Homo sapiens: one gene and its partners. The protein of the gene in region 5 purifies or fractionates together with the protein of the main gene of each other region. This does not show direct contact. Each region holds a gene or a part of one and is shown on either strand. Other genes may lie near its edges. The genes, in order: MRPL19, LSM14B, TTC4, RPS27L, KAT6A, ZNF148 and GNL3L.

Region 1 (4,208 bases), on a different chromosome or scaffold from region 5:
AAAACAAAATTATCACTGTCTTATATGACTTGGGAGGAATTTTAAAAAGGCAAAATTGTGTTTATATACTATGCCTAATAGAGGAACAAGGAGTAAAACTCTAGCAAGATTATTAATTAAAATGGCAGGAACAATTACGTTTATCAAGTTGTGTGCTTCATGAAGTTCCAACAACAAAGTATTCTTATTTTCAAAGAAATTGAAAATGTGAAAGCAGTTGCTGTCTTGCTTATTCTGTAATGACAGTGGGCTGTGCGTGCAGGAATTCAGCAGGACTTAATTGATTTGTGCCTTCAATCTGGTCAAATACTTGGAGAGGCCTTGTAATAGAAGTAAATGAGCATAGGAGTGAGTCATTTGATTTTCTTTAAGCATTAAGATAGTAATAGTTTCTACTCTACATGGTTCTAGCCAATCAACTGTGAGATACTGTATTTGAAGTACTGGACACAGAATACTCAAAAAGGATTAGCTCCCTCTTGCCATTCTCTGTAGTATGTCTGACTGTTGTAACCTGCCTCAACCTTCCCCATCACTGCTTCCTGCATTAGTGTTTCCTTCTTGTTCGGTGGCTTTGTATACCATCTGTATAATGATAACTTCCAAATTTATAACTCCAGGACTGACCCTTTTTAAGTTCCAGATTTGCAACTATCTGCAACTATCTGATCAACACTCTATTTGGATGTCTTACCAGCATAAGTTGAAAGCAGAACTCTTTATTTCCCCTTGCAAGGTGTTCCATTCACAGTCTTTTCTATTTCCATAAATGGTACCACTCTGCCTACCCACTTACTTTCACACATGCAGTCAATCAAGTTTTCTTGGCACAGTCTCCAAAAAATATATCACAATTTTGCCTGTTCTTCCCTCTACATTGCTATCACCCTCATCCATGTCACCATCATCTGCTTGCATTTGTGCAGTCTCTCTGGTTTACATTTCTGGTGGCTTATTCTGTTCGTGCTGTTGTAACAAAATGCTACAGGCTGGGTAATTTAGAAAGAACAGAAATTTATTTCTCACAGTTCGGGAGGCTGGGAAATCTAAGTTCAAGGTGCTGGCAGGTTTTGTATTTGGTGAGGCCTCCTTCCCTGCATCCAAGATGGTGCCTTGTTGCTGTGTGCTCTGGAAGGGCCAAGCACTGTGCCCTCACATGGTGAAAGGTGGAAGGGCAAAAGGCAAAACTAGTTCTCTCCATCCCTTTAATCCACTAATCCTTAATCAAAGGAGCTTCTAACCAAAGTTGGAACTTAATATTTTACTTCTTTTGTACCATTAGTCTTATTACTCTTAACATGGAAGATTGATTTTTCTTCAAGTAATTGGGAGATAAAAAACGTGACATAGGGAAGAATTCAGACTTTCTCTGAAGTTACTACTATGAGAATTGAAGAGATATGTGACTCAACATATTTCTAGAAGCCATTTTTTTCTTTTTTAGACTATCATTCCAATTCAGACTTTCTAACTTTATATTTAAATGGATTTTAGCTTATTTCTATTTCTTTCAGTAATCTTTATCTTAAAAATTTCAAATTAACGGCACATTTTCTACATGCAAAACTTTGTGCTAATTCCTTTATGAAATGCTTTTACTGCAGTATGAAACATGTATAGGAACGTGGACTTAGATTGTAAGAATATGTTTTCTGTTCTATTTAGGTGTCGAGATTTGCTTTGAACTTTATAATCCTCGGGTCCAGGAGATTCAGGTGGTCAAATTAGAGAAACGGCTGGATGATAGCTTGCTATACTTACGAGATGCCCTTCCTGAATATAGCACTTTTGATGTGAATATGAAGCCAGTAGTACAAGAGCCTAACCAAAAAGTTCCTGTTAATGAGGTATGGGTTATACATTTGAAACTAGAAGTTCAAGTATAAAATAAGAAAGAAAGAATCATCTTAATGAAAACTTCAGAAGAATTTTTGCTCATGCCTATCAGCCTAATTATTGCTTTTTTTTTTTTTTTTTTTTTAATCTTCCTTAGCTGAAAGTAAAAATGAAGCCTAAGCCCTGGTCTAAACGCTGGGAACGTCCAAATTTTAATATTAAAGGAATCAGATTTGATCTTTGTTTAACTGAACAGCAAATGAAAGAAGCTCAGAAGTGGAATCAGCCATGGCTTGAATTTGATATGATGAGGGAATATGATACTTCAAAAATTGAAGCTGCAATATGGAAGGAAATTGAAGCGTCGAAAAGGTCTTGATTCTGAGAATGAATTTGGTTAGTTGCAGAAGATACATTGGCTCTAAGAGGATATATTTTGAGACCAATTTAATTTCATTTATAAGAACATAGTAATTAAGTGAACTAAGCATTCATTGTTTTATTAATACTTTTTTTCTAAAATAAAACTTGTACACCAGTTTATTACTCTAAAAAGAGAATTACACATGCCAAATGGACCAATGTCCATTTGCTTATTGGAGGCAAAGCTACAATAGAAGTCAGAGCATCACCAGAATGGTCTTTAATGAGCATGGAACCTGAGCAAAGGGAATAGGTGGGATGAATTTTTTTTTTAATTGTGAAACAATTCATAAGCACAATATGATTTACAGAATAATAAACATTCATGTACCCACTATCAGGTTAAGAAATAGAACATTTATTAATATGTAGGAATGTTAAGAAATAAAACATTTAATAAGATCTCAGAAGACTCCAGTAAATCTGCAATTGTATCTCTCTCCTTTTTAAATGTAAATATCATCTTGACTTGTTAATTATTCCCTTGCATTTCTTTTAGTTTACTGCCAACACATATATTCTTCAACAATATATTTAATTTTGAAAAACCTGAAAAAAAAAACCTGTTAGCAAGTATAAAGGGGCAGTATTACTATTATTGCATGAAGGCTTCAAGGGAAACGTTACAGTCTTTGGGTCATAGTCTGGCTTCAGCTTCCTCTGAGAGTTTACAGAGGCCAATTTTGAGCAAATTCATGGCTAAGGTTATGAGTGAGTTCTGCTAAACAGAAGGCTCACCACAAGGTATCTGGCAGGATTATACTGGGTAGCTGGATGTTGCAGAAATGTGGTTAGAGGAAGTAAACTGTTTTTTGATGCTCACAGCATGATGAATCAAACTCTGTATCTTAGGATTAGGTTAAAACAATACCTTTGGTATGATATGAGTGTTGTTGCTGATCCATGCAGCATGGATTGGAAAGCTGGGGTATAAGCACACATGCTAAAGAAAAACATGTAATTTGGTCCATACTCACCTGGATATACTGTTCCTCAGGTTAAAAAATACAGTACTATCCTAAATCTTGAAGGCAACTCTCAGCCTATCCATTGAGTTACCTTCAGATCTGCCCTCTGGTTCCTAGCTGTCTTGGGACTAACTTCTTTCCTGCGCTCAGCTGTTTTCTGGATTCCATGTTTTCCATTTTATTGAGTACTAACTTGTTTTGCTGCAGCACATCCTTTGGTAGCTTCTAGAGGAAGTTTGTGTGGAGGTAAAATTTTTGAGACCTTGCATGTCTCATGTTTGATTGATACTTTATACGTTTAGGTAGGAGGTAATTTTCCTTCAGGACTTTAAAAATATTGTTGCTCCATTTTCTTTGTTTCTATTGTTGTATTGAGAAATCCAATGCCATTTTGATTTCCCCATCATAAATTTCATGATGATGTGTCTTGGTGTGGGTCTATATTTATCCATTGTATTGGGTTTTAGGTGAACCCTTCCAGATAGTAACTCATTTCTGTCAGTTCTGGGAAACACTTAGCATTGGTTGATGATTTATTCTCTGCTGCTTTGTTCTCCCAACTATTATTTGGATGTTGGATATCCAGCACTGGGTATCTATTTTCTTACCTCCCTCCCTTGACCCCAGTCTCTGTTTTTTAGCTCTTTAGCTCAATCTTCCAACTCTTTGCTATTGTATTTTAAAATCTTAAGACCCCTTCTTGATTTGTAGAAGTTCCTTTTCTTACAACCAAAAAGCCTTTATCTATGGATTTGTTCACAGATAAGGGGTATTCAATATAGTGTATTTTTTTTTCATTTAAAATTGTTTGCGCATCTATTTCCTCCAAATTTCTTTCTGTATTTATTTTTTGTTGTCTATATTTCAGACTTTTCCAGGATATCTGATAATCTTTGGCTGTCTTCTTATGGTTGAAAGAGGGACTAAAAAGCTTGGAAAGCCTTTGGGTTGTGGGAAGGGGCTGTCTTTAGGATTATCTGA
Region 2 (4,208 bases), on a different chromosome or scaffold from region 5:
GCATGGACACTCATGCCACCCAAACAAGCTGCTGGTGGGAGACTATCTCCCACATCCAACTGTGCACCCAGCACTCCCACCCAGCACTCCTACCGACGCAGACAACAGCTCCAGCAGCACACCCACCCTGAGCTCCTCTTCAGCCGGAAACCTGCTGCTCCCACAGACTTCCGTGTTCAAAGAAACAGCAACTCCACCCATCAGCCGCCCAGGCCAAAAGACTTAGGAGTCATTCTGGACTCTTCTCTTGTCATGTTGGCCAATTCTGTTAGCGCCACCTTCAAGACACATTTAGACTCTACTCCTTCCCTCTGTCACCACCACTGCCTGGTTCCAAGCCACCTGTGCTGCAGCACTGGCCCCTAACTGGCCAGTCAGCAGCCACACTTGCCCACCGTCCAACCACTCTCACCAAGGACGCCGTAAAACATCAGACCGCACCACGCTTCAGCACAAAACCCTCTGATGGCTTCCCGCGGCACTTGGAACAAAAGCCAAAGTCACTGCCATGCCCTACAAAACCCTACAGGAACCCATCCCCCAGACTCGGCCTGTCTGGAAGCACTTCCCGCACTCATCTGCGCAGCCTGCTCTGCCTGTGAGAACTGATCATCCACTTCCCATCGAGTTACAGCCCCATCCCATCGCCCTCACTGCCTGGCCTTCACGACATGCTGTTCTATTTTTCCCCTGGCAGAACATGAACCTGAAGAGGTGGCGCTCTCCAGCCTGCCTTCTGAGGCCCCCTCAACGCCCCGCGGCATGTCTGGCGCTCAATCTGCAGGACAAATGGGCCCAAGTTTCCAAGCCAGGCCCACACTGTAGATGCCACCCACTCCCTAGGGTGCTTCGCGGGACTTCTGACCAGCTGTTAGGTGTGAAAAATAAAACACACCACATGGTCCCTGGCCTCAAACAATGAAGTGAAGGAAAGCCAGTGTGAGCACGTTCTAGCCATACCTCAGGCTGCTAAGCAAGGACCTCAGGCTGCCAGGCCAGCGGGACCAGCAAGCAGAGCACCGTGAGGTATGCTGAATGTGGACACGGGTCTGCCGGGGGGGGCGGTGCAGCCCAGCCTTTGTGGGGACAGGGCAGCAAAGCCAAGAGGAAACAGGCTCGACCTCAGCCAACTCCTCGGGTCGGGATCCCCAAGAGGCTTCCCACACGCAACCTGCTGGGACTCCGGCACCCATCATGCAGAAACGCAAGCAGGACCCTAGAACAGCTACCCTGAGCCTCAGAGTCCAGCTCTGCCCTCAGGTTGAGAGCCCTCAGCCCTGTCCTTTCTAGATTGGAGGACTGTCCTCCCCTCATTCATTCAGCCTCTCACCTGGTCTTGAGTTCAGAAGAGATGTTGTCGAAGAACGACTTGGATTTGTCATAGTAGCAGTTGGGCCCCAGAAGGTCTTCCTCAGCGGGCGCTTCGGCACTCTGGGTCACCACAGCCAGGTCCTTCTCTTCCCCCTTCTCAGCCTTGTCATCTACAAAAAGAAGCAGAACACGTGGAGATGGAGGAGGGGCAGAGCGCACAGCCTTTTAGCAGGGTGGTCCCTCCGGGCTCACTCGGAAGCCACCCTCAAGCTAAGACATCAACTATGCCTTGTGCAAAGCAGAAATCTCTTCTTCTACCTTCTAAGTACAGGTCTCGTTCTGCCGTCTGGGCTGTGCAGTCTGCACCTTATCCCACCCATTTTCACACCTCCCAGCACCTCACTTCATTAATTCCTCACTGCCGGTCACCATCCGCCTGGCATCCCCGGTTCCTCTAGGCATCTCTTCCTTTTCCTTGAGACAGAGTCTTGCTCTATCGCCCGGCTGGAGTGCAGTGGCGCAATCTTGGCTCACTCCCACTGCAACCTCCACCTCCTGGGTTCAAACGATTCTCCTGTCTCAGTCTCCCGAGTAGCTGGGATTACAGGCGCCCACCACCACGCCTGGCTAATTTTTGGATTTTTAGTACAGATGGGGTTTCATTGTGTTGGCCAGGCTGGTGTTGAACTCCTGACCTCAGGTGATCCACCCACCTCAGCCTCCCAAAGTGCTGAGATTACAGGCGTGAACCACCACACCCGGCCAGGCATCTCCTCCTAACACTCTCTAGGGGTACTCCTGTGCAGAGAATAATTTTCATATAATGAGCCAAACCTTTAAAATTCAGTTTCTTCTTAAATTCTTTGTCAAGCTCCTCTCGGTTGAACTGGGCATTTGCACTCTCGAAATCAAAGTCACCCTCAAATTTGATTGTGTTTTCCTTAACGTTAGTTGGACGGTTTTGCCCTCTGGAGCGATTCCTTGTTCGCCTGTTTCCTGTGAGGACAAAGGACAGCCCTGGCTGAAGTAGGTCACCAACCCAGTGATCTCAAACACCTCACAAGGAATTTCCAGGCACACCCCCAAGGCCACAGAAGGAACAGAGCACACAAGCAGCGACTTCACACCAGCACCCCTGAAACCGTCAACCAGAGAAGCAGGCAGGAGGGCAAGCAGAGCTCAGCCTGATCACTCGTGGTCCCCAGAAATCAAGTGGCAACAGGTGTTACCTGATCGCCTCCTCTGAGGTCTTCTGTTCTCGTCATTCACCTGCCCTTGAGCTTGCACAGCTGCCGGCTGGACTACATCTACGGCGCAAAAGGGAAGAGTAAGGCAAAGCTCCTATAGCAGCCGGAAGCCAGAACCCAGCTGTGGAAGCAGGCCCCACCACCATGGGGCACGCGGCCAGGGCGGCACCGCAGGAGGCTGCTGCACAGGCCTGCCCTGCAAAAGCACATGGGGCTTAGGATGGGGGAGTAGTATTTTTTTAATTAAAAAAAAAAAAATAGCCCAGGAAGTAGTGTGCCACTTTTAGAACATCAAGCAAACTCCAGGAAATGATGTGTTCAAGTACCGCTGGCCGTCTTGCTGCTCGGCTGGGCCTGACGACCGTTGAGCTGCGTCCCTGTGGTGCCCTTGCCAGGTAACAGCTTTTTAGCATTCAGGTTGTCAGCAGAACCAGTCTGCACAGCCTGCTCCACCATGGGGCTCTTGCCGACTGGGATGGATGGAAAACCAGCTCCTGAATTGAGGAGGGGAGGAGGGTTTAAAAACAGAGAGAAAAGAAGCAAGCCTTATATCTCCAGGCATTTCTCTTCTGCTGGCATGTCAGGAAGGAAAGGAGGGCAACTGCCTAGATGTTCTATCAAATCCAGGCAAAGCACCCCCAGACTGGGCCATTCCCTCTGAGGCTAGCCCAGGCAGCAAAAGAAGGCCAAGAGTCACTGGGCAGCACCAAGGCCAGTTCATCTTTGGACTCCCCACTCCCAAAGCCCTGAGCTTCCCAAGTTAGGGAACCTCAAGGACAGGAAAAACACCGTGCCTACAAACAGGCACCTCCCCAGAAGTGTGGAAACAGCTTTCTTAAAACCACACAAGCTCCAATCCCAAAGGAGCTCAGCAGCCCCAAGATCCTGATGAATTCAGGATCTGAGAATTTGTTTCATTCTGGTCCACACTGGAGAAGAACCAGCCCAGCCTGGGATTTTCTAGAAAATGCAGTGAACAAATTCTGAAGTTAAATTCTACAACACTGTCATTTCCACTTAAGGCACAATAAAACTAAAAATGATGAAGCAGGAGCTGACTTCCGAGACGTAGCAGCCTACACTTCTCTCAAGGGCAAAGGCTCATCATGAAGACACAAAGGGCTCCTAGGTAGCCTTTGGCAAGGGGCTATGCCTATGAAACTGCAGTCCGAGGCCCACGCACAGGGGATGAACCCTCAGAAACCAGGCCCTCTGAATCAGGAGGAAAATGGGAAGCACCACCCACCTCTCTCCATCTCCTCCCTTTCCAAGGTTCCAGGACCTGTAGGGACTCTAAACAGGACAATGTGGGACTGGGTGTAAGTGAACAGAGATCTGAAACAGAAAAGGCACCCTAACCACAGGGTAATTATTATTAGACGAACAGCCCAATACACATGAAGACTGGGCATCTCATCTTACTGCTTTTACGGAATAGAAATGAAAAAAAAAATTGACTGTAGAAAAATTCCTTGTAACCAGATCAAGAGAAGCTCTCAAAGGGCAGGTTGGAACGACTCTGCATAGAGGTCTGGAAAGTGTCCTCTGGCGGGAATGCACCCGGGCCACTTTCTCACTGATTGTCTCACTCAGCATGTCCGGGAGACAAACACAGCACTGCCTGCCTGCTGATCATACTGTGACTGCAGG
Region 3 (3,500 bases), on a different chromosome or scaffold from region 5:
CTGTTGAGCCCCTCTAGTGAATTTTTCATTTCAGTTATTGTACTTTTCAACTACAGAACTTCTGTTAAGTTCTTTTTAGTAACTTCTCTTTGTTGATATTCTCTATTTGGAAAGACATCATTCTCATACTTTTTTTAGTTCTTTAGACACTATTTCCTTTCATTCTGAGAAGATATTTAAATTAGCTGGTTTAAAGTCTTTGTCTAGTAAGTCCCACATCTAGGCTTCCTCTAGCTAATGACCAGACAGTAAGTCTTCCAATCTTTGTCAAGAGGCTTTGTGTACATGTTGAAGCACATTTTTAGCATTCACCCAAGCAGTTTACAATTCTACCTTAGCCTTCACTTCCTTCTTGCAGAGACTCTGAGAGCTTAGGGTCTTCTCAGGTCTTTCCTGAGCACATGTATAGCCCTGGGCACATGTGTGACCATCTAGATCTTCAGGAATACTGGAGCTTTTCGGAGCCCCCACAGAATTTCATTCCCCAGTTTTTCCTTTTAAGCTTTATGATGCACCTATTGTTTGCTCCAGTGTTATCCACTGCTTCAGCTTCTACAATCTTTAACAATTGCCTCTAATTGTTTTTTGACAAATTCTCTCCCACCTTTTCATTCCCCCTATTTTCTGGCCCTATGTAAAAAAGCTTTTTATACTGGGTAAGCTCCAAGTCAGGTCATATAAAAATAGCCCTGTGAGCGGGGTCTTCCAGGGATCTACCAGATGGTCAAATCATCACAGTTCTCTGGGAAAAGGCTTTGAAAGAGCTCCAACCCTGTTCTGCCTCCTCTGGTGGCTGCAGGCTGCTCATTTTCACCATGACTGTGGGCTACTGGCTTTCAAGGCTACTGTGGAACTGGAGAGGAGGGAGATGAGAATAGAGCAAGTTAAAATGTCACAAAGCTTGCTGTTCTTACTGAGGTTCCAACATTTTTCTTGAATAAACATGCTCCAGATTGCTGCAAACCTCTGGTTCATTTCCAGAGTCCTAGAAAAGTGAATTCTGATCATTTTTGCCAGTTTCCTCATTGATTTTATGGAGGAGAAAAATTGTAAAGGTCTTTAGTCCACCACTGTGATTGACACTACCCCTCTCTATTTTTTAAATACTGGTTTTATTAATTACTGAGATAGTTGATATTTCCACCTATTTGTGGATTTGTCTCTTCCTTCTTTGAGTTGTCAAGTTTTGCATCATGCATTTTGAAGCTGTTAGTAGGTGCCTACACATTTAGAATTGTTAAATATTCTTATAAGCTGGTCCTTTTATCATTTAAAAAAATGCTTCAGTGGCTGGGCACAGTGGCTCATGCCTGTAATTCTAGCACTTTGGAAGGCTAAGGCAGGAGGATTAAAGCCCAGGAGTTTGAGACCAGCCTGGGCAACATAGTGAAACCCCAACTCTACAAATTTACAAATTAAAAAAAAAAATTAGCCTGGCATGGTGGTGCACGCCTGTAGTTCCAGCTACTCAGGAGATTGAGGCAGGAGGATCAGTTGATCCCAGGAGGTCAAGGCTGCAGGAAGCCATGATCATGCCACTGCACTCCAGCCTGGGCAACAGAGCAAGACTCTGTCTCATGAAAAAAAAAAAAGAAAAAAAGCTTCACTTCATCTCTGGTAACACTTGCTGCCTTGAAGTCTACTCTGTCTGATATTAACATAGCCACAAGTCTGTTGGCTATATGCCAAGCACATAGGAACCCAGAATCAGCTTGTACTCAGACACAGGGGAATACTTCAGCTATTCAGCAAGTAATGTCACCTAGACCTAATATCAGGCTTCTGGGCCTTGAAATCTCCCTTTAATTGTGACTGTCCCCAGTAGCCCTCTAGACATTCATTCCTGTATATACCACTTTCAGAAATTCTGGCCATACCCAATTACCTAGGCTCAGAATTCTGTTATTGAGCCATGTGGGTCCATAGAGATCTACCTTTTCTACCATTTCATATGACCAGAATGACCTCTGGTCATTGCTGATGATATATGACATTTCTGGCACATAACAGCTAAAATGATGATTAAAAACAGTAATAATAACAGAATACCATCACTACCCAAAATAATATCCAACATTTAAATAGCACTACTGTGTGTGTGCTCCAGGTGTTATTTAAAAACATTCCTTACGTTAAACCATCTAAACTATATAATAGCCCTATAAGGTAGGAAATATTTTAATTCTCCTTCTACTAGTGAGGTAGCTAAAGCACAAAGAGATCAGCAAGTTGTCCAAGTCACATAACTGTCATGAAGGGAGTCTTCAAATTCAGGCAGTGGCTCCAGAGTCTAAGCTCTTAGCCACTGTGTAATACTGTCTTACATGCCTGTTAATAGAAAGCCAGAACTAGTCTTAAGGTCTCTTAATTCCTGGTTTAGGTCTCTCTTCATGGCTTATACTACGGAATGGGAGTATATAATATACACTGGGAGTCTTTAGCTGGCCCTGAACACGTGACATTGTTATGTGACTGTATATAGTAATGGTATCTAATTTTGCCCTGGACAAGACGTGTCTCCATTCAGATTGATGGGGATACATTCTGAAAAATGCACAATCATTGTTGTACAAGCATCATGGAATGTACTTACACAAACTGAGATGGTATAGCCTGCTACATACCTAGATTATATGGTACAGCCTATTGCACCCAAGCTACAAACCTGTAAAGCACATAACTACACTGAATCCTGTAGGCAACTGTAACACAATGGTAAGTATCTGTGTAGCTAAACACATCTAAACACAGAAAAAGCACAGTTAAAATATGGCATCATAATCTTATGGGACCACTGTAATATATACGGAGTTCCATCATTGAATGAAACACTGTTATGTGGCACATGACTGTACTACCACTATACACACCATCTATCCTTGCTTACCTCTATATCACACTATAACTGTTTACTTGTCTGTGTGCTCCACAGAGTTCCAGGAGTAGGGACTAGTTTTGGGTTTTGTTTTTAAAAAGTTTACAATGACTTGAGAGACACAATCTTGGGAATGCTAATTACTGCTAATTAGCAAATGCTAATTGGTTGCTGACAGTCACCAACCTTCAGCTTGTCTGCTTTAGCCCTCATTTCCAGAAGCTTCTTCTCTTTGGCATCTATTTGCAGTCCCTCATCACACCAGTTCACGGCCTCGGCAAAGTGTTTCAGTTCCAGATGGCATAAGGCACCTGCAGAACCCAGAACCCTTAGGATTCAAGAAAAACATGCATGGAAAGAACCTGCTTTGGGCAAGATCTCCCATCCCCCACCAACTACCAGCCAGTACCCTGAAGGCAAAATGGAGGATAATGCCCCTTATACTGCAGTCCCCAGACAAGGGAGAATACTTTTTGTGTCCTAAATCAGAAAAATCCCTAAGGTCCATTTAGTTCAAAACTCCTGTAAGTCTCCCTGGTATTAAGGGCTCTTAAAGTAGGAAAAGCTATAACTTAGTGGCAAACCAGATAGATCAAGGCTAGAAATCTGGCTGTGTCATTTACCA
Region 4 (4,827 bases), on a different chromosome or scaffold from region 5:
TCAGCATATGGGCACTAAATTCCAAAATCATGACATGACATACTTTGTTTCAAAAATCTCCCAAGTATACTTAGCAATATTACTTAGCAATATTACTCTTAAAAAAATCATGTGCTGACTCCATATTTAGATCTCACCAGGTCACACCAAATAGATCTCAGATTTGCTGCCAATCCACTTGAACTCTTCCAGTGAGAGCATGGAACTTACAGCTCCCCAAAATATCACAAGCAAATTTATAACATCATTATGGAATCACAAATTTACAAGTATTACTATGGAAACTATATATATAATTTTTTTTTCTTATTGCACTAAAGTGAAAGAGGAATTAAAATTAGGTTTTTATATTAATCATTGCAGTTGCTCATAAAAGTAAAATCTCTGGCATTTTAACTTATATATTAGCTATCTGTTGCTTAGCTGGCAATGATAAAAAAAAAACTATTATATGTACTAAATATATATGGAACAAAATTTTGTAAAAGAAATTTTAAAATTCTATATGGTTTTAAAAATCTGTATGTCCTGGCCGGCGAGGTGGCTCATGCCTGTAATCCCAGCACTTTGGGAGGCCGAGGCGGGCAGACCATGAGGTCAGGAGATCAAGACCATCCTGGCTAACACAGTGAAACCCCACCTCTACTAAAAATACAAAAAATTAGCCAGGCATGGTGGCACGCGCCTGTGGTCCCAGCTACTTGGGAGGCAGAGGCAAGAGAATCACTTGAACCGGGGAGGCAGAAGTTGCAGTGAGCTGAGATGGCGCCACTGCACTCCAGCCTGGGTGACAGAGCGAGACTCCTAATAAAAAAAAAAAATAATAAATAAATAAATAAATAAATCTGCATGTCCTATAACATGTAGTTATTCTTTTGCTTCTATTCTGACTTAATTTATTCCAAGTTAAGCAAACTAAGTGAATAAATGTGTTCTAAACTAAGAAAAATAAGTCAATGGAGTTCACTGCAAGGTCAAGAGTATAAATATATCCATTTGAACAGGCCATTCTTTACTGAAAGCACACAATGAAAGATAAGTTATTTTGGTAATCATTAAGATTTCTTTAAACTTTTCAGTGAAGATAGAGACATTTATAATCATCAATCTCATCACTGGGTTGGAGAATGCCAAATGATATACCTTCTGTGAGTCTGGCCTTTCCTCCTGTAGGCTGGCACAACACTGTTGAACAACCTACACAAAGAACCACTGTCTGAGCATGGCTGAAAACCGTGGTGATCTTGTAGCAACCTAAAAAAAAAAAAAGGCAATGTTAAAAATGAAAAGCAGAGGAAAACAGCACCTGTTCGACATTTCTGGTAATATGTAAAAAAATCAGTAACTTCAGTGCTATGAAACAGCAAGCCACATGTGTAACATAAACTTTTCTAGCAGCGACACAAAATTTTTTAAAAACAGGTAAAATCAATAATATATTTCATTAAACTTAATATTTCCAAAATATCATTTCAACATGTAATCAATGTATTTTTTTTCTGTGCTACATCGTCAAAATCCAGTGAGTATTTTACAATTAAAGAACATCTCTATTTTGAGTATCCACATTTTGATTATCCACAAGTGCTCAGTAGCCACATTCAGCTAATGGCCATTGTATTGGGCAGCACAGCTTTAGACTGAAGAATCAACAGACTTTTCTTTGTATCATGAAACAGAAAACTCATCGTCTGAAGAGCTTAAAGACTTGCTAAGTCAAATGGCATATCTCCTTTGAATGCCTGTTTTCACTTACCCCGAAATGTTTCTACAATGGTTTCAGTACATTTATTATGAAAATGTCCCTGACATTTCCAATTCTGTAATCCCACTTCTACTCAACAGAGGGTTCTAATGTATCTTAACTATACACACCACACTAGCAATCCCTACAGAAATTTTCTTTAGTAAAGGAATTAAGATTTCAAATTTTACCTGGACATTTTACATCCATAAAGTAAGAATTTGGACTTTGTACTAGGCGTTTCTTTTTATGTTTTTTCTTTTCCTCTTCCAAGGACGGATGTAGTAAATCTCTAGCCAACTGAACAAAGAAGCATATTATTACTATTAGTTTTAAACCACAACGCTGGCACATTTAACCATACGTGAAATATACATGCAAAAACAGGAATAACGGTCATCCTCGGCAGAAGCAACACGTCAGATAGTAAAGTTATTTTTCGAAACCTGTTAATAACTTTCATCAGTACTTTTCATAATACTTGTGTTCTCCAAGTCCCTAGAAAAGGGCTTTCGCACGATCAGGAAACATATGGTAAGGCAAACTTTGTCCTTCTTTACTCAACTGCGTAATGAACTGTCTTCGATGAAAACTGCGCGAAGTCGAGGTGCTAAGCAAAGAAAGTGACCCCGACTGTGGACTCGCTTAGAGTAGAAACTGCTGAAGTAGACCAGACAACGTCAGCGCCTGGGTGATTTTTGCTCCTGTGGCTCAACAGCTGATCTGACAGGAATTCTTGCTGAGCGACCGTCCTTGACGGAATTAATATATAAGGCAACAACGAGGACAGTTTTTAAAAAAGGAAAACAAGTAGGAAATCGCTTCCGAAAGAAGGCAGAGGGGGCGAGAAACACCAATCACTGGGAAAGCCAAAAGACCCAAAGATCACAACCTCAGGGGCATCCTCAAAGACCAAGACCGCTCATAAGCTACACAGAGAACTGTTCCCCTCCCAGCCACCGCCTCTGAATTGCAGCCCACGCCCCTGCAGGGCCAGCCGCGCCGCGGTGACCGGGCAAGTCACTACATGCCCGCCACGCGCGAAGACGCTGCGCAACCTGAGCCGCCTCGCCACTCTCGGACACTACAGGCCCGAGAGGCAGCCGGACTCATCCGTCCCATATGACTCTCGGTAAAGAAGCCCAAAACAAACCCGGAGCCCGATGTAAACAACTCACAGGCATGTTGATCCTCTTGCAAGCTCAGCCCTACCAGACCTCCCAGCCCACACAGCTAGCAAGCTGCAAGCGATCTGCGCTCGGCATCAACTTCCGGGATAGAAGCTGCTGGGAGGAGCGGCGGGGCGGGCTTGTCTGCTCTAGGCCCTCCTCTCGGTGGTAGGGGGACGCCGCAGCAGGGTACTCGGGTCCAGGGCGCAGGGAAGACCCGGGGATGGTGAGCGTTCCAGGGTGCCAAGTCCCGTGGGTCTAACGGGCTTGTTGGCGAGCGCCGCGGGCTCTGCAGTGCCTGAGGCCAGAATCTGGCTGGGGAGCGGCCTCGGGCTTAGGCCATGGCGAGGGAGCGCCCGCGGCCACCGGGGCCGGCGCCACCCCGGAACCCGGCGGGCCGCTCAGCCCCCGGCCCCCTGGCCCGGCCGCTCTCGGTTAGCTCTGGGGGTGGGCACACGGGGCAATGCCACTATTCTCTTCTTTTGTGTATTAAAAAATACAGTATTATTAACCATTAATACGTGCCAGAGAGATTATGAAAGAGGCTCGTATCCTTTTGGCTTCCCTTTTCAAGGCGCAGATTTCGAAGTTTTCTGCGGGGTATGGCTGTGCCTTAGGTTTGCTTTGTTCTGAAAAAAAGTTTTTAAAACAGCACGGATTCGCTGCTGTGCCTCATTCACTAAGAGGCCCCACCCCTTCCGAGGATTACTCGTCCTTTGCAGAGTGGACAACTAGGGGGCCTGAGAAAGGCGAATGTCACCGATGACCGAACATGAGTCTTTATCATTATTATTATTTGAGACAAGGTCTCGCTTTTTTGCCCAGGCTGGAATGCAATGGTGCCATCACAGCTCACTGCAGCCTCGACCTCCTGGGCTCAAGCGATTCTCCCGCCTCAGCCTCCCGAGTAGCTGGGACCACAGGAACACGCCATTATTCTTTTTTTTTTTTTTTTTTTCCTTGGAGACAGGGTCCTGCTATATTGCCCAGGCTTGTCTCCAATTCCTAGGCTCAAGAAGTCCTTCCACCTCAGCCTCCCAAGTAGTTGGGACTACCGGCGCGTGACAGCATGCTCTATTTTTGAGGAGGAAACTCTATGCTTGAAAAATGGGTGTCATGGGCGACCAAAAGGCAAGAAACCAGAAAGACACTTTACCAGAAAATTGGTCTAACTGGATTTTTTTTTTTTTTTTTTTTTTTTTTGGCAGAGTCTTGCTCTGTCACCCAGGCTGGAGTACAGTGGCGCGATCTTGGCTCACTGCAACCTCCGCCTCCTGGGTTCACGCGATTCTCCTGCCTCAATCCTCCCAAGTACCTGAGATTACAGGTGTCCATCACCATGTCCGGCTACTTTTTGTGTTTTTAGTAGAGACGGGGGATGGTGGGGGGGGGGTTCACTATGTTGGCCAAGCTGGTCTCGAACTCCTGACCTCAAGTGATCTGCCCGCCTTGGCCTCCCAAAGTGTTGGGATTACAGGCGTGAGCCACCGCGTCCCGCCCTGACTTGATGTTCTTAATCACCTTATTTGTCTTTGCAAAAAGGATACATGTATAATATACATTTTGGGAAATGCAGAAAAATAGAAGAAAATTTACCATCTGTAAATAAACATTTTTAACTTTTGACCTATATCCTTCCCAATATTTTTTACTCTCTTGGATATAGGTTTATTTTGGGTTTTGACTTAACCTAATTGGGATCATCTTGTGCATAATCTTTTGTAGACTTGAATTTTCCTCCCACTTACTATAAAATGAGCATCACTCCATGTCACTACATATTCTTTTTTTTTTTTAAATAAGGTCTCACTGTGTTGCCCAGGCTGGAGTGCAGTGGCACAATCTTGGCTCACTGCAGCCTCGACCTCCTGGGCTCAAGCAATTGTCCCCCCTCAGCCTCCTGAGTAGTTGGGA
Region 5 (4,208 bases):
ATATGCTGGGTGGGATCCTGGAACAGAAAAAGGACGTTAGGGAAAACTATGGAAATCTGAATAAAGTATGAACTCTAGTTACTGATGTATCTACACTGGTTCAGTAACTGTGATAGATGTACCACACCAACGCAAGGGATTAATAATAGAGGAAACTGGCTGGGGTATGCGAGAACTCTCTGTACTTTCTTTGCATTAATTCTGTAAATGTAAAACTGCTCTGAAGATATTATTCTTAAAACAAAACAAAACAAAACAAAAGATCCTGTCTTGCTTTTTAAGACCCTGTAAGGAAAGGAACGATTGTGCTGCTTTGGCTGGAAGCTGGCTGAGTGGCTCTTCCAGGGAGCAGCCTCGCTTCAGTCTGGCTGCCTCCTGGCAATGCTTAAAATCCACTCCATAGCCTGGGATGTTTCTGGTAAACGGCTTAACAGAATTCATTATCATCATTGTACATTATTTAATAACTAATTGGCTATCATTATGATGGAATATAGTTTAGAAAATATTTTTAAAGCAAGAGAGACCACGTTAAACCACTGGAGGGATGTGTGAGAAGTGGGGAGAGTAGAGAGAAAACAATAGCACCCAAGATGAGCTACTGTACTCTGAGTACCCCAAAATATAGGGCAGCACTATGTTCACTTTCCAATTAATTATGTAATATTTTGGCCTCCTTTTCTAATATAAACACTTCTAATCTGTACATACTTTAAAAATATCTTTTAAAGATATTTTAGGGCTTTAAGCCCCTAAAAGTCATGATTTGAACATCAAACCAGTAAGCTAAAAAAAAGTTTGTTTGCATCCCAGGAGGTGAAGCCCTTAAATAAGCTTATGATTTCTAAGTGAATTCCCATGAATCAAAGAAGTCAAACACACACACACATCTCAAATGTTCACTGGGAAGATCTTGAGCTACAATATACAGAGGCTTAAGGTTTATAAAGCAATGCACTAGGAATTTCTAACTTATACTCTTTCAGAACTGTAAGCTAAAACGAGAAGGTGTAAGATAAACTGGAATTGGAGGAAGAGAAGACCTGGAAAGAAATGCGTTACCTTTCGCTTCAGCGTGGGCTTTGTGAGAATTGGTGGCGAGCTTGACCGAGGGCTTTCCGGCTCCTCCTCCTCCTCGCTGCTCTCACTGAAGCCCCTGAGGACAGCCCTGTCACCCTCACTGTAGCGACGGGGCAGCCTCTCACTTCCTTCTGTTAATCTGCACTTCAGAGCCTCAGGGCTTTTCTTGAGCTGTCCTCGCCAGGGCTCAACCCCCTCACTGAGTCTTCTCTTGGGAAGGTCAGGTTTCCCGTCCTGGCTTGGCTGCTCCTCAGAAGCCACCAGCTGTTCTTCACTTTCAGTGTATTGTTCCTGGGTGGCTTCTGATTTCTCCCCACATTCTCCATATTGTTCCTGAGGAGCTGAAGACGTCTCTTCCAAGAGCAGTTTAGAATCTTTATCACCAAAACGTTCCTGGGTTTTTCTGTTCTTCCTCCCCCAGCGGCCCCTCCGAGATGGCTGGCTATTTGCAGGAAGACTATCATGAGGAAGGACTTGTTTGCTCAAACGTGTAGAACTGACTGGAGCCATAACTTCTGGTTTCTTTTCACTTTCTACTGAATAAGAATCTTGTTCTTTGTTCTCATGAGACACAGACTTTCCCACCTGATTTTAGAAAATAAAACAATGCTGGTTAATTTTTCAGTCTTGTTTGCTTACATTTACCTATTCTGACCTTTTAAGTATTGAGAGAAGAAAAGGAAACTGAGCTTTAAAAAGAAAATGATCAGTTATTTAACATGGATATTTCCTGTTTCAGCACTGCTTTAAATTCTGTATATGCATTATTTATTTAATCTCCCCAACAATCATATGAAGTATTACCACTACAACTCCACTTTACAAATGAGGCATGTGGGGTAGAAAAAAATTTAAGTAATCTGCCCCAGGTCACGCAAGAGCAAGAGAAGATGCTGGGATAGAAAGCCTGGCAGTCTGACTCCAGAGCCTATGTTCTGAATCTTTCTGCAGTACCACCCTCAATAAGCAAAGTGAATACTATTGTTCTTTTAAATGTTAAATGAGATTGTTTAATAAAATTTCTCAGAAATAAAAATTTGTAAACAGGGTGGAGGAGACAGGATCTTGAGACATGGGCAAGAGGAAGGAGGCATTTGAGAAATATGAAAGAAAGTTTATGTAGTTTTTAAATTTACTTTTATTCTGAATAATTTCATTTTGAAAAATTAAACTGCACTAAAGAGAGGCATGGGATTTTTTATGTTTATTAAAGGAGGATACCGGTGTTGAAAGGATGAAGCACTGCTTAAAAAAAAGAGCTATAAAAGTATGCATCACATGAAGAAAAATACTGACAATGACACATGCACTACAGTTCACCAGCAACCCTTTAACGGCTAAAGAGATCTGTGTGTCCACAGGATGTTTTGGTGCCCCATCAGAAAACATACACAAGTTTACAATAGTTACTTAATATTCTATTTAAGGAAAATGTATCTCCATTTCATTTTGTTGTTGGGTTTTTTTTGTAGAGATGGGGTCTCACTATATTTCCCTGGTTGTCCTGAACTCCTAATCTCAAGCAATCCTCCCGCCTGGGCCTCCTAAAGCGCTGAGATTACAGGCATGAAACACCACACCCAACCTCCATTTCATTTTTAAAAACTGTCAGATTTGGATTCAATTCAGATTTCTCAACTACTATCCAGCTTAAAACTGAGCTGCTTCTTGGCACCCTGGTAACAAATATTTTTCTCACAAGTAACACATTATAAGAAATTTGATGGTCTCCTCCTAATTGTCCAAGGCTTAAAAATACTTAAGTAAACCAGGTCCAGTCTTCTTGAAATCTCTACCACTGAAATAAAACTCTTGACATTCTAATGTGAATTTACTTTTCTGTGAAAGATGATCATAATACATTATTATAAATACTCATGAAATCAAAAATATATCTTCTGTCATCAAAAATAGAGACTATTCATGCCCTTACACTGATCTCTAATTCTCTTTCCTGGCACTGTGGCTCTTCGTTTTCTCCTTCCTCAGCCTCCTCTTCTTCCTCCTCTGAGACCACAGAGTTGGACACTATGACTGGAGTCCAGCGCAAACATTCTGGATCTACATCTACAGGTCGCAAATTCAGCTGAAGCTTTGCCATGTGATCCTGGATAAGTTTTTCCCGGCGGATAATCACAAATCTGGAACCAGAGAAAAGTTTATAGCAATCAACAATGTACAAGGTGTACATAAAAATGAATGTGGAGATGAGACCCCTGGTGAAGCATGTAAGATGATAGGTGCTGCAAAGATAGCCTGCCTGGGACGATGGAATGCAGAAATGTGCCACCACATGAGACGGCCAGGAGTGTGAAGCAGGACAAATGCTTCGCTCTCTACCGTGGCCGCGGGCTGTTTTCACTGCCTGCTGTCTCACACGTCCCGCTCCAGAAGTTCTGCTGCTCTTCTGCACTCTCTTTCCTATTCTCCATTTATTTGGCTCAAATGCCTCCTTTCTTTGTGACCTTTTTCTGACCACTTTAGTGAAGGGTGAACTGTCTGTTCTTCCTTTCAATCTATATTTACTTTGTGCCATTTATATGAAAATTTAACATGGGCATTTTATTTAATGACTGTTTCTAGAGTGGTTACTTCTTGTATTGTGAAAGAGCTCCCAATACTAGAAGATGAAAGATTCAGTAGCTTAGGTCCAAAAATTAGGGGTATCAGAAAAACAATTCAGTTTAAAAAGCATATATATAGACTATATATAGACCATATATATAGTCAATCAAATAAAATATCCTAGAAAGGAAAATGATATCTCATTATCACCAAGTATATCATTTATATTAGTTAATGCCCTTTCATCAATAATCTGACTGGCTGATCCAAAAAACTTCAACCTAATTATCTTTCAAAGGTATACAAAAAGATGTGATACTCACTGGTCACTACGGAAGTCCAGCATTCGTAGGTGGTGGAGTGTGGAAGTGATGTCTTGAGGGCAGATTCCAGTCAACTTGCTTAACTTCTTAATGCTGATCTGCTTGTCATTTTGGTGATAAAGGCACTCCAATATTACACTTTTCCAATATGCCATGTAGGAAAGACGACCCAGATCAGATAACGGTTTCTCTGGAGACCCTGCTTGGCCTTCACGCTTTGATAACAAATAACCTAAAGAA
Region 6 (4,208 bases), on a different chromosome or scaffold from region 5:
CAAAATTTCAAAGTAAAAAGATCTGTCATCAATAAGACCATTCAGAATAAGATTATACCATGTATTATTTAAAAGTGTGCCTCTTGGCCGGGTGTGATGACTCATGCCTGAAATCACAGCACTTTGGGAGGCCAAGGTGAGTGGATCACTTGAGGCCAGGAGTTCGACACCAGCCTGGCCAACACGGCGAAACCCCATCTCTACTAAAAAATACAAAAAATTGCCAGAAGTGGTGGTGCACGCCTGTAGTCCCAGCCACTCTGAGACTGAGGCAGGAGAATCGCTTGAACCTGGGAGGCAGAGGTTGCAGTGAGCCAAGATGGCGCCACTGCACTCCAGCCTGGGTGACAGAGAGAGGCTCCATCTCAAAAAACAAACAAACAAACAAAAGTGTGCCTCTTGGGCTCGGCGCAGTGGCTCACACCTGTAATCCCAGCACTTTGAGAGGCTAAGGCAGGCAGATCACCTGAGGCCAGGAGTTCGAGACCAGCCTGGCCAACATGGTGAAACCGTGTCTCTACTTAAAATACAAAAATTAGCTGGGTGTGCTGGTGTGTGCCTCTAGTCCCAGCTACTTGGTAGGCTGAGGCACGAGAATCAGTTGAACTCAGGAGGCGGAGGTTGCAGTGAGCCAAGATCACACCACCGGACTCCAGCCTGAGTGACAGAGTGAGATCCTGCCTCAAAAAAAAAAAAAAAAAAAAAAAAAGCCATAGAAGCCTAGAAAGAACATTCTAGGGTCATTTTAATACATTTCCAGATTTCCCACACTAAAACTCTCCAGAAGACAAAGAATACTGCAACCTCAAAAAAAAAAAAAAAAAAAAAAAGTGTGCCTCTTGAAGGGATTATGAACTCCTAGCAAACAGGGACCATGTTTCGCTCACCTTTATAGACCCCTTCCCCCAACAGCACACACTAGATACTCAATAAATAGGTAAATTCTATAGAATTGTACTCAGAAGTTAATTCAGAAAAGGTGTTCTAAAAACATTCTGAACACTGCTACTGAAAATGACCACCGAAATATAAAAGTTCTTATCTGGAGATATAATTTTGATATTTGTTTTTAAAAATCAACTTTCTGAAATCTTATACCATTACTGAATTATTTCACAACTGTCTTTCTCTCTCAAAAGAATGTAAATACTACTTTGGGATGCCAAGGTGGGAGGATCACCTGAGGTCAGGAGTTCAAGACCAGCCTGGCCAGAATGGTGAAACCCCACCTCTACTAAAAATACAAAAATTAGCTGAGCATGGTGGCACGCTCCTGTAATCCCAGCTACTTGGGAGGCTGAGGCAGGAGAATTGTTTGAACCCAGGAGGCGGAGTTTGAACCCAGCAGTGAGCTGAGATCGCACCACTGCTCCCCAGCCTGGGCAACAGAGCAAGACCCCGTCTCAAAAAAAAAAAAATTGTAAATACTACAAATTCCTTGAGAGAAGAAGCTTATCTGTTATTTTTACTATCCTAAAAAAGAATTAAATCAGACAGTCCTAAAACAGTCATTTATGCCTGAGGTAAAAAAAAAAAATCTAAATTAAACCAGCACCCTGCTACAGACCAGATTTTACTCCAGATTAAACTAGCTTCAAATTTAGAAGAGACCCCTTGGTCCCACCTCTTCCAAGTTGTTACAGAACCACTGCAATTCCATTCTAATCCAGTCTGTCTTCTTCCCTTAAATCTAAAGGTCCTCTCCAGATATCCCTTTTGTCCTTCACGCTGTCAAACACACACACACACAGTTTTGCCTACAATACCCCCAAAGTACTCAGCAATTTCATACAATCCCACTATTATCACTAACAGTGAACACTACTTTCTATCAGTCATTCAACAGGTATTTATTAAGCACTTAAGAATCAACCTGCTGTTAGTTTCCCTAGAGACTACAGGAAGTCTCTGCTCTAGAACAGGTTACAATGTACCATTTGCAAAACAAAGAGAATAATTGTCACAAATACAAAATTTAGCAATACATAAACTACATGTGAATACTGTTACTACTGAAAGTAAGGAAGACTCTCAAGAGTTGCCATTACTTAGACTCCCAAAAAGAAGTGGAGTAATTATCTTTCTAATCTCCCAACATCCACCATAGTGATTTGCACCTCATACACAAATTTCAAAAACATTAATATTTTATGACTCTAACCTAACAGAGGAGATTGGGCCCAGTATAGTTTTTTCCTACCACATTCCCAACATATTAGTGACTTAAACATGCTAATTTCCTTAAAAATGACAAAAATTTTAGTCTCATCACCATAAGGTAAACCTCCTTCACATTAACTATATCCAAATCCCCCTCAAAATTCTTTACCTTTTCTTCAGCCTCCTCAAAATGTATCACCACCTCCATCAAACCCTGTTCCTCATCCTCATCCTCCTCTTACCACATTTCCCATCTCTCCCTACTACATCCCCCCAAAAAACACATGTATATGCCAATCCATTACCTCCTAAAAATAAAAACATAAGAATTGTGGCCGGGCACGGTGGCTCACGCCTGTAATCCTAGCACTTTGGGAGGCTGAGGCAAGCAGACCACTTGAGCCCAAGAGTGCAAGACCAGCCTGGGCAACATGACGAAACCCCGTCTCTATAAAAAATACAAAAAAAGTTAGCTGGGAGTGGTGGCTCATGCCTGTATTCCCGGCTACTTGTGGGGCTGAGGTGAGAGGATTGCTTGAGCCCAGGAGGTGGAGGCTGCAGTGAGCTGGGAACATGCGCACTGCACTTCAGCCTGGGTGACAAAGTGAGACCCTGTTTCAAAAAAAAAAAAAAAAGGGGGGGGGGGGGGCAGGGCGAAGTGGCTCACGCCTGTAATCCCAGCATTTTGGGAAGCCGAAGCGGACAGATCATGAGGTCAGGAGATCGAGACCATCTACAGTGAAACCCTGTCTCTACTAAAAACACAAAAAAATTAGCCAGGTGTGGTAGCGGGCACCTGTAATCTCAGCTACTCAGGAGGCTGAGGCAGGAGAATTGCTTGAACCCAGGAGGCAGAGGTTGCAGTGAGCCGAGATCGTGCCACTGCACTTCAGCCTGAGCGACAAAGCTAGACTCCGTCCCAAAAAAAAAAAAAAAAAAGAATTGCCACAGAACCCTAGAAAAAACATTCAAGGGTCATTTTAATGCATTTCCAGATTTCCCACACTAAAACTCTCCAGAAGACTGTCAAAGAATACTGCAATCAGGCCGGGCGCGGAGACTCATGACTGTAATCCCAGCATTTTGGGAGACGGAGGCGGGTAGATCACGAGGTCAGGAGATCGAGATCATCCTGGCTAACACGGTGAAACCCCGTCTCTACTAAAAATACAGAAAATTAGCCGGGCGTGGTGGTGGGAGCCTGTAGTCCCAGCTACTCGGGAGGCTGAGGCAGGAGAATGGCGTGAACCTGGGAGGCAGAGCTTGCAGTGAGCCGAGATCACACCACTGCACTCTAGCCTGGGTGACAGAGCGAGACTCCGTCTCAAAAAAAAAAAAAAAAAAATACTGCAATCTGGTAACTAATTCCAAGATGAACAACTATCATTGTCAAGCAACTCCTCTTCATCTCTAACAAGCAAATCTTACACTGCAAAGATGGTTCCTACAACATGGTCTTTCTGATAGGTCCATCCAAACTTCTCTTTATCATCTCATCCAGCATTTTTAGTCTAATTGTCAATGTTCTTTCTACTTCAGGAAAGCCATACCTAGGCTAAATCCCTAAAATACAATGGGGAAATCAAGAGATACAGCCTAAGATTGTTGGATTCTAAAATCAAGGTTTAAGCATATTATTTAAAAATATAAACACACTGAATAAAATAACTAAAATAAATATCAAAGGTCAGAAAGGAGGAGAAAGGGGATAATGTCAATGACACATTCATAAACATCTTCTGACTCCGATAATGTCATTTTGATAAATCAAGAAATAATATTATATGCCCATTACTTGGAGACATGGAAAAAAGCATGGTAAGAAATACAAAATTAATGCTTAAAAGTAGCAGCCTCAGTAAAGTGGAACTGCAATAGGCAGGTGAGACAGGGGCTGCTGTTTTTCATTGTAAGTTCCCTCAGAACAATTTTATAATAAAAGAGTAGAGGCCGAGCACAGTGGCTCACGCCTGTAATCCCAGCACTTTGGAGGCCAAGGCGGGTGGATCACTTGAGGTCAGGAGTTCGAGACCAGCCTCACCAACACG
Region 7 (3,994 bases), on a different chromosome or scaffold from region 5:
TTCAAGCGGTTCTCCTGCCTCAGCCTCCCGAGTAGCTGGGATTATGGGCGCCCGCCACCACGCCCAGCTAATTTTTGTATTTTTAGTAGAGATGGGGTTTCACTGTTTTGGCCAGGCTGGTCTCGAACTCCTGACCTCATGATCCTCCTGCCTCAGCCTCCCAAAGTGCTGGGATTACAAGAGTGAGCCACTGCGCCTGGCCTTTTTCTTTGTTCTTATATTTTTGTCTTTTTTTTTTTTTTTTTTTTGAAACAGAGTCTCACTCTTTCACTGAGGCTGGAGTGCAGTGGCGTGATCTTGGCTCACTGCAACCTCCACCTCCTGGGTTCAAGCGATTCTCCTGCCTTAGCCTCCCGAGTAACAGGGACTACAGGTGCCCACCACCATGCTGGGCTAATTTTTGTATTTTTAGTAGAGGCGGGGGTTTCTCCACACTGGCCAGGCTGGTCTTGAACTTCTGACCTCAAAAGATCCACCCACCTCGGCCTCCCAAAGTGCTGGGATTATAGGCATGAACCACCGTGTCCGGCCATATATTTTCGTCTTTTGAAGACTGTTATATACATGAAATTATATGGTATGTAGCATTTTGAGAGCGACTTCTTTTGCTATGAGTAATACATTTGAGATTCATCCATATTTCTCAGTATATTAATAGTTCTTATTTCTGAGTCACTCCATTGTGTGGATTTACTACTGTTTGTTCCCCAGTTGAAGGATGTTTAGGATCTTTGCAGTTTTGGACAATTACAAGTAAAGCTGCTATAAACATTTGTATGCAACATTTTGTGTTTTCATTTATCTATAGTAAATACCTAGAGTTGGATTGCTGGGATATATGGTAAGCATATGTTTGACATTTTAAGAAACTTCTAAACTGTTTTTCAAAGTGGCTCTACCATTTCACATTCCCATCAGTATGAAAGTTTCATTTCCACATCCTCTCTAGTACTTGGGGGTGTCAGTTTAGTTTTTTAATTTTTAAATTTTTTAATTTTTTTAATACATTTAAATAGAGATGGGGTCTCACTGTGTTGACCAGGATGGTCTTGAACTGCTGGCCTCAAGTAATCCTCCCATCTCGGTCTCCCAAAGTGCTAGGATTACAGGTGTGAGCCACCATGCCCAGCCAGGTTTTTTGACATTAAGTATGTGGTGGTATCTCATCGTTTTTATTTGCATCCTCTAATGATTTGAGCATATTTTATATGCTTATTTGCTATCTACATATCTTCTTTGGCAAGGTGTTCACATCTCTTGCATATTTTGGATTGTTTTATTATTTTTGAATTTTGAGGATTATATGCTGGATACAGGGGTGTTTTTTTTTTTTTTTTTTTTTGAAACAGAGTCCTCACCCAGGTTGGAGTGTAGTGGTGCAATCTCGGCTCACTGCAACCTCTGCCTCCTGGGTTCAAGTAATTCTCATGCCTCAGCCTCCTGAGTAGCTGGAATTACAGGCGCAGGCCACCATGCTTGGCTAACTTTTATATTTTTACCAGAGACAAGGTTTCACCATGTTGGCAAGGCTGGTCTTGAACTCTGGACCTCAAGTGATACACCCGTCTTAGCCTCCCAAAGTTCTGGGATTACAGGCATGAGCCATTGTGCCTGGCCAGTATCTTGTCTTCTCATTCTGTAAACGGTGTCTTTTTTTCATTATGGGAAAGCTTTATTGACACATTTGTTTTTATTTTTAAAAATTATGGTAAAATACACAGAACATAAACGTTACCATCTGATATGGTTTGGCTGTGTCCACACCTAAATCTCGAATTGTAGTTCCCATAATCCCCACACATATGTACCACATTTTCTTTATCCAGTCTTTCGTTGATAGACATTTAGGTCGATTCCATGTCTTTGGTATTGTGAATAGTGCTGCAGTGAACATATGTGTGCATGTGTCTTTATGGCAGAATGATTTATATTATGCATAACCAAAACTGTACTTATTAAACAATAACCTCCCAACCCCTTCTGCCCACAACCTCTGGCGACTGCCATGCTACTTTCTGTCTCTGAATTTGAATACCCTGATAGTCATATAATATTTATCTTTTTGTGACTGGCTTATTTCACTTTGCATAATGTATTCAAGCTTAATCTGTGTTGTAGCCTGCGTCAGAATTTCTTTTCTTTTTAATGCTGAGTATTATTCTATTGTGTGTATATACCACATTTTATTTATCCATTCATCCACTGATGGACATGTGCATTGTTCCCACCTTTTGGCTATTGTGAAAAATGCTGTTATGAATATGGGTATGGAGATCTCTCCCCTTATTTTGAGACAGGATCTCACTGTCACCCAGGCTGGGGTGCAGTGGTGTGCTCATAGGTCACTGTAGCTTCGACCTCCTGGGCTCAAGCGAACCTCCCACCTCCGCCTCTTGAGTAGCTGGGACCACAGGCATGTGCCACCATGGCTGTTAAATTTATTAATTTGTTTTTCTATGGATCATGCTTTTTGTGTTACATCAGAGGAGTCTTTGCTTAACATGAGATGACAAAGGTTTTCTCCCATGTTTCCTCCTAAAAGTTTTATAGTTTTAGGTTTTACATTTAGGTCTATGATCCATTTTGAGTCAATTTTTGTATATGGTACAAGGTATGAATCTATGCTTTTTAAAAAAATATGGTTACCCAATTTTTCTAGCAGTATGTGCTAAAACTTTGCTAAAGTCACTTAGTTCTAGTAGCTTTTTTTGCAGATTTAACCAGACTTTCTACATAGACAATCATATCTTCTGTGAATAAACATGGTTTTATTTCTTCATGTCTAATATATATGTCTGCATTTTTTTTTTTGTCTTATTGTAGTCGCTGGGACTTCCAGTACTACACTGAGTAAGAGTGGTGGCCAGGTGCGGTGGCTCACGCCTGTAATCCCAGCGCTTTGGGAGGCTGAGGTGGGCTGATCACCTGAGGTCGGGAGTTTGAGACCAGTCTGACCAACATGGAGAAACCCCGTCTCTACTAAAAATACAAAATTAGCTGGGTGTGGCAGCGCATGCCTGTAGTCCCAGCTACTTGGGAGGCTGAGGCAGGAGAATCTCTTGAACCCAGGAGGCAGAGGTTGCAGTGAGCCGAGATCACACCATTGCACTCTAGCCTGGGCAACAAGAGCGAAACTCCATCTCAAAAAAAAAAAAAAAGAATGGTGAGCACAGGCATCCCTGTCTTGTTTCTGACTTTGGGGGAGAGTATTCTTTCTGCCTTTAACCATTAAGTATGTTAGATTTTTGTATTGCCCTTTACTAGTATGAGGTGCTAAGGGTTTGTTTTAGGAATGGATGTTAGATTTTCTTAAATGTTTTTATGCATCTATTGAAATGATTACATGGTTTTTCTTTTGTGGTTTGTTTTTAATGTAGTTTTAATAAATTATATTGATTGATTTTCTTATGATAAACCAATCCTGCATTCCTGTGATAAACCCCACTTTGTCATGATGTATTATTCTTTTTTTTTTTTTTTTGTGAGACGGAGTCTCACTCTGTCACCCAGGCTGGAGTGCAGTGGCATGATCTTGCCTCACTGCAACCTCTGCCTCCCGGGTTCAAGTGATTCTCCTGCCTCAGCCTCCTGAGTAGCTGGGACTACAGGTGCGTGCCACCACGCCCGGCTAGTTTTTGTATTTTTAGTAGAGATGGGGTTTCACCATATTGGCCAGGCTGGTCTCGAACTCCTGACCTTGTGATCCGCCCGCCTCAGGCTCCCAAAATGCTGGGATTACAGGCATGAGCCATTGCACCCAGCCTATTCTTTTAATAAATTGTTGGGAAGTTATATTAGTTTCTATTGCTGCTGTAAAAAATTAGCACAGACTTTGTGGCTTAAAACAACACAAATCTATCATCTTACACTTCTAGAGGTGAGAGGTCCCAAATGAGTTTCACTGGGCCAAAATTGGTGTTGTCAGGGTTACACTCTCTCCAGAGACTCTAGGGGAGAATCCATTTCCTTGCCTTTTTCAGCTTCTAGAGGCTGC

What was found.
Region 1: the proteins of KAT6A (region 5) and MRPL19 purify together in Homo sapiens (affinity purification with mass spectrometry, with the first as the bait; one large-scale study listed by BioGRID). This does not show direct contact.
Region 2: the proteins of KAT6A (region 5) and LSM14B purify together in Homo sapiens (affinity purification with mass spectrometry, with the first as the bait; one large-scale study listed by BioGRID). This does not show direct contact.
Region 3: the proteins of KAT6A (region 5) and TTC4 purify together in Homo sapiens (affinity purification with mass spectrometry, with the first as the bait; one study listed by BioGRID). This does not show direct contact.
Region 4: the proteins of KAT6A (region 5) and RPS27L purify together in Homo sapiens (affinity purification with mass spectrometry, with the first as the bait; one large-scale study listed by BioGRID). This does not show direct contact.
Region 6: the proteins of KAT6A (region 5) and ZNF148 purify together in Homo sapiens (affinity purification with mass spectrometry, with the first as the bait; one large-scale study listed by BioGRID). This does not show direct contact.
Region 7: the proteins of KAT6A (region 5) and GNL3L purify together in Homo sapiens (affinity purification with mass spectrometry, with the first as the bait; one large-scale study listed by BioGRID). This does not show direct contact.

The regions. Positions count from the first base shown.
Region 1 is NC_000002.12:75,653,071-75,657,278, forward strand, and holds part of MRPL19 (large ribosomal subunit protein bL19m), read left to right. Parts: intron 1-1,665; coding exon 1,666-1,847; intron 1,848-1,993; coding exon 1,994-2,215; 3' UTR 2,216-4,208.
Region 2 is NC_000020.11:62,128,629-62,132,836, reverse strand, and holds part of LSM14B (protein LSM14 homolog B), read right to left. Parts: intron 3,913-4,208; coding exon of another isoform or gene 3,805-3,912; intron 3,053-3,804; coding exon 2,885-3,052; intron 2,619-2,884; coding exon 2,541-2,618; intron 2,308-2,540; coding exon 2,146-2,307; intron 1,482-2,145; coding exon 1,331-1,481; intron 482-1,330; exon of another isoform or gene 1-481. UniProt on the Homo sapiens protein: mRNA-binding protein essential for female fertility, oocyte meiotic maturation and the assembly of MARDO (mitochondria-associated ribonucleoprotein domain), a membraneless compartment that stores maternal mRNAs in oocytes.
Region 3 is NC_000001.11:54,722,361-54,725,860, reverse strand, and holds part of TTC4 (tetratricopeptide repeat protein 4), read right to left. Parts: intron 3,187-3,500; coding exon 3,062-3,186; intron 1-3,061.
Region 4 is NC_000015.10:63,154,478-63,159,304, forward strand, and holds the start of RPS27L (ribosomal protein eS27-like), read right to left. Parts: upstream 3,001-4,827; 5' UTR 2,929-3,000; coding exon 2,923-2,928; intron 2,045-2,922; coding exon 1,936-2,044; intron 1,255-1,935; coding exon 1,144-1,254; intron 1-1,143.
Region 5 is NC_000008.11:41,939,780-41,943,987, forward strand, and holds part of KAT6A (histone acetyltransferase KAT6A), read right to left. Parts: intron 4,201-4,208; coding exon 3,969-4,200; intron 3,222-3,968; coding exon 3,014-3,221; coding exon of another isoform or gene 3,002-3,013; exon of another isoform or gene 2,270-3,001; intron 1,666-2,269; coding exon 1,063-1,665; intron 1-1,062. UniProt on the Homo sapiens protein: Histone acetyltransferase that acetylates lysine residues in histone H3 and histone H4 (in vitro). Component of the MOZ/MORF complex which has a histone H3 acetyltransferase activity. May act as a transcriptional coactivator for RUNX1 and RUNX2.
Region 6 is NC_000003.12:125,368,578-125,372,785, forward strand, and holds part of ZNF148 (zinc finger protein 148), read right to left. Parts: intron 1-4,208. UniProt on the Homo sapiens protein: Involved in transcriptional regulation. Represses the transcription of a number of genes including gastrin, stromelysin and enolase. Binds to the G-rich box in the enhancer region of these genes.
Region 7 is NC_000023.11:54,564,504-54,568,497, forward strand, and holds the end of GNL3L (guanine nucleotide-binding protein-like 3-like protein), read left to right. Parts: 3' UTR 1-2,786; downstream 2,787-3,994.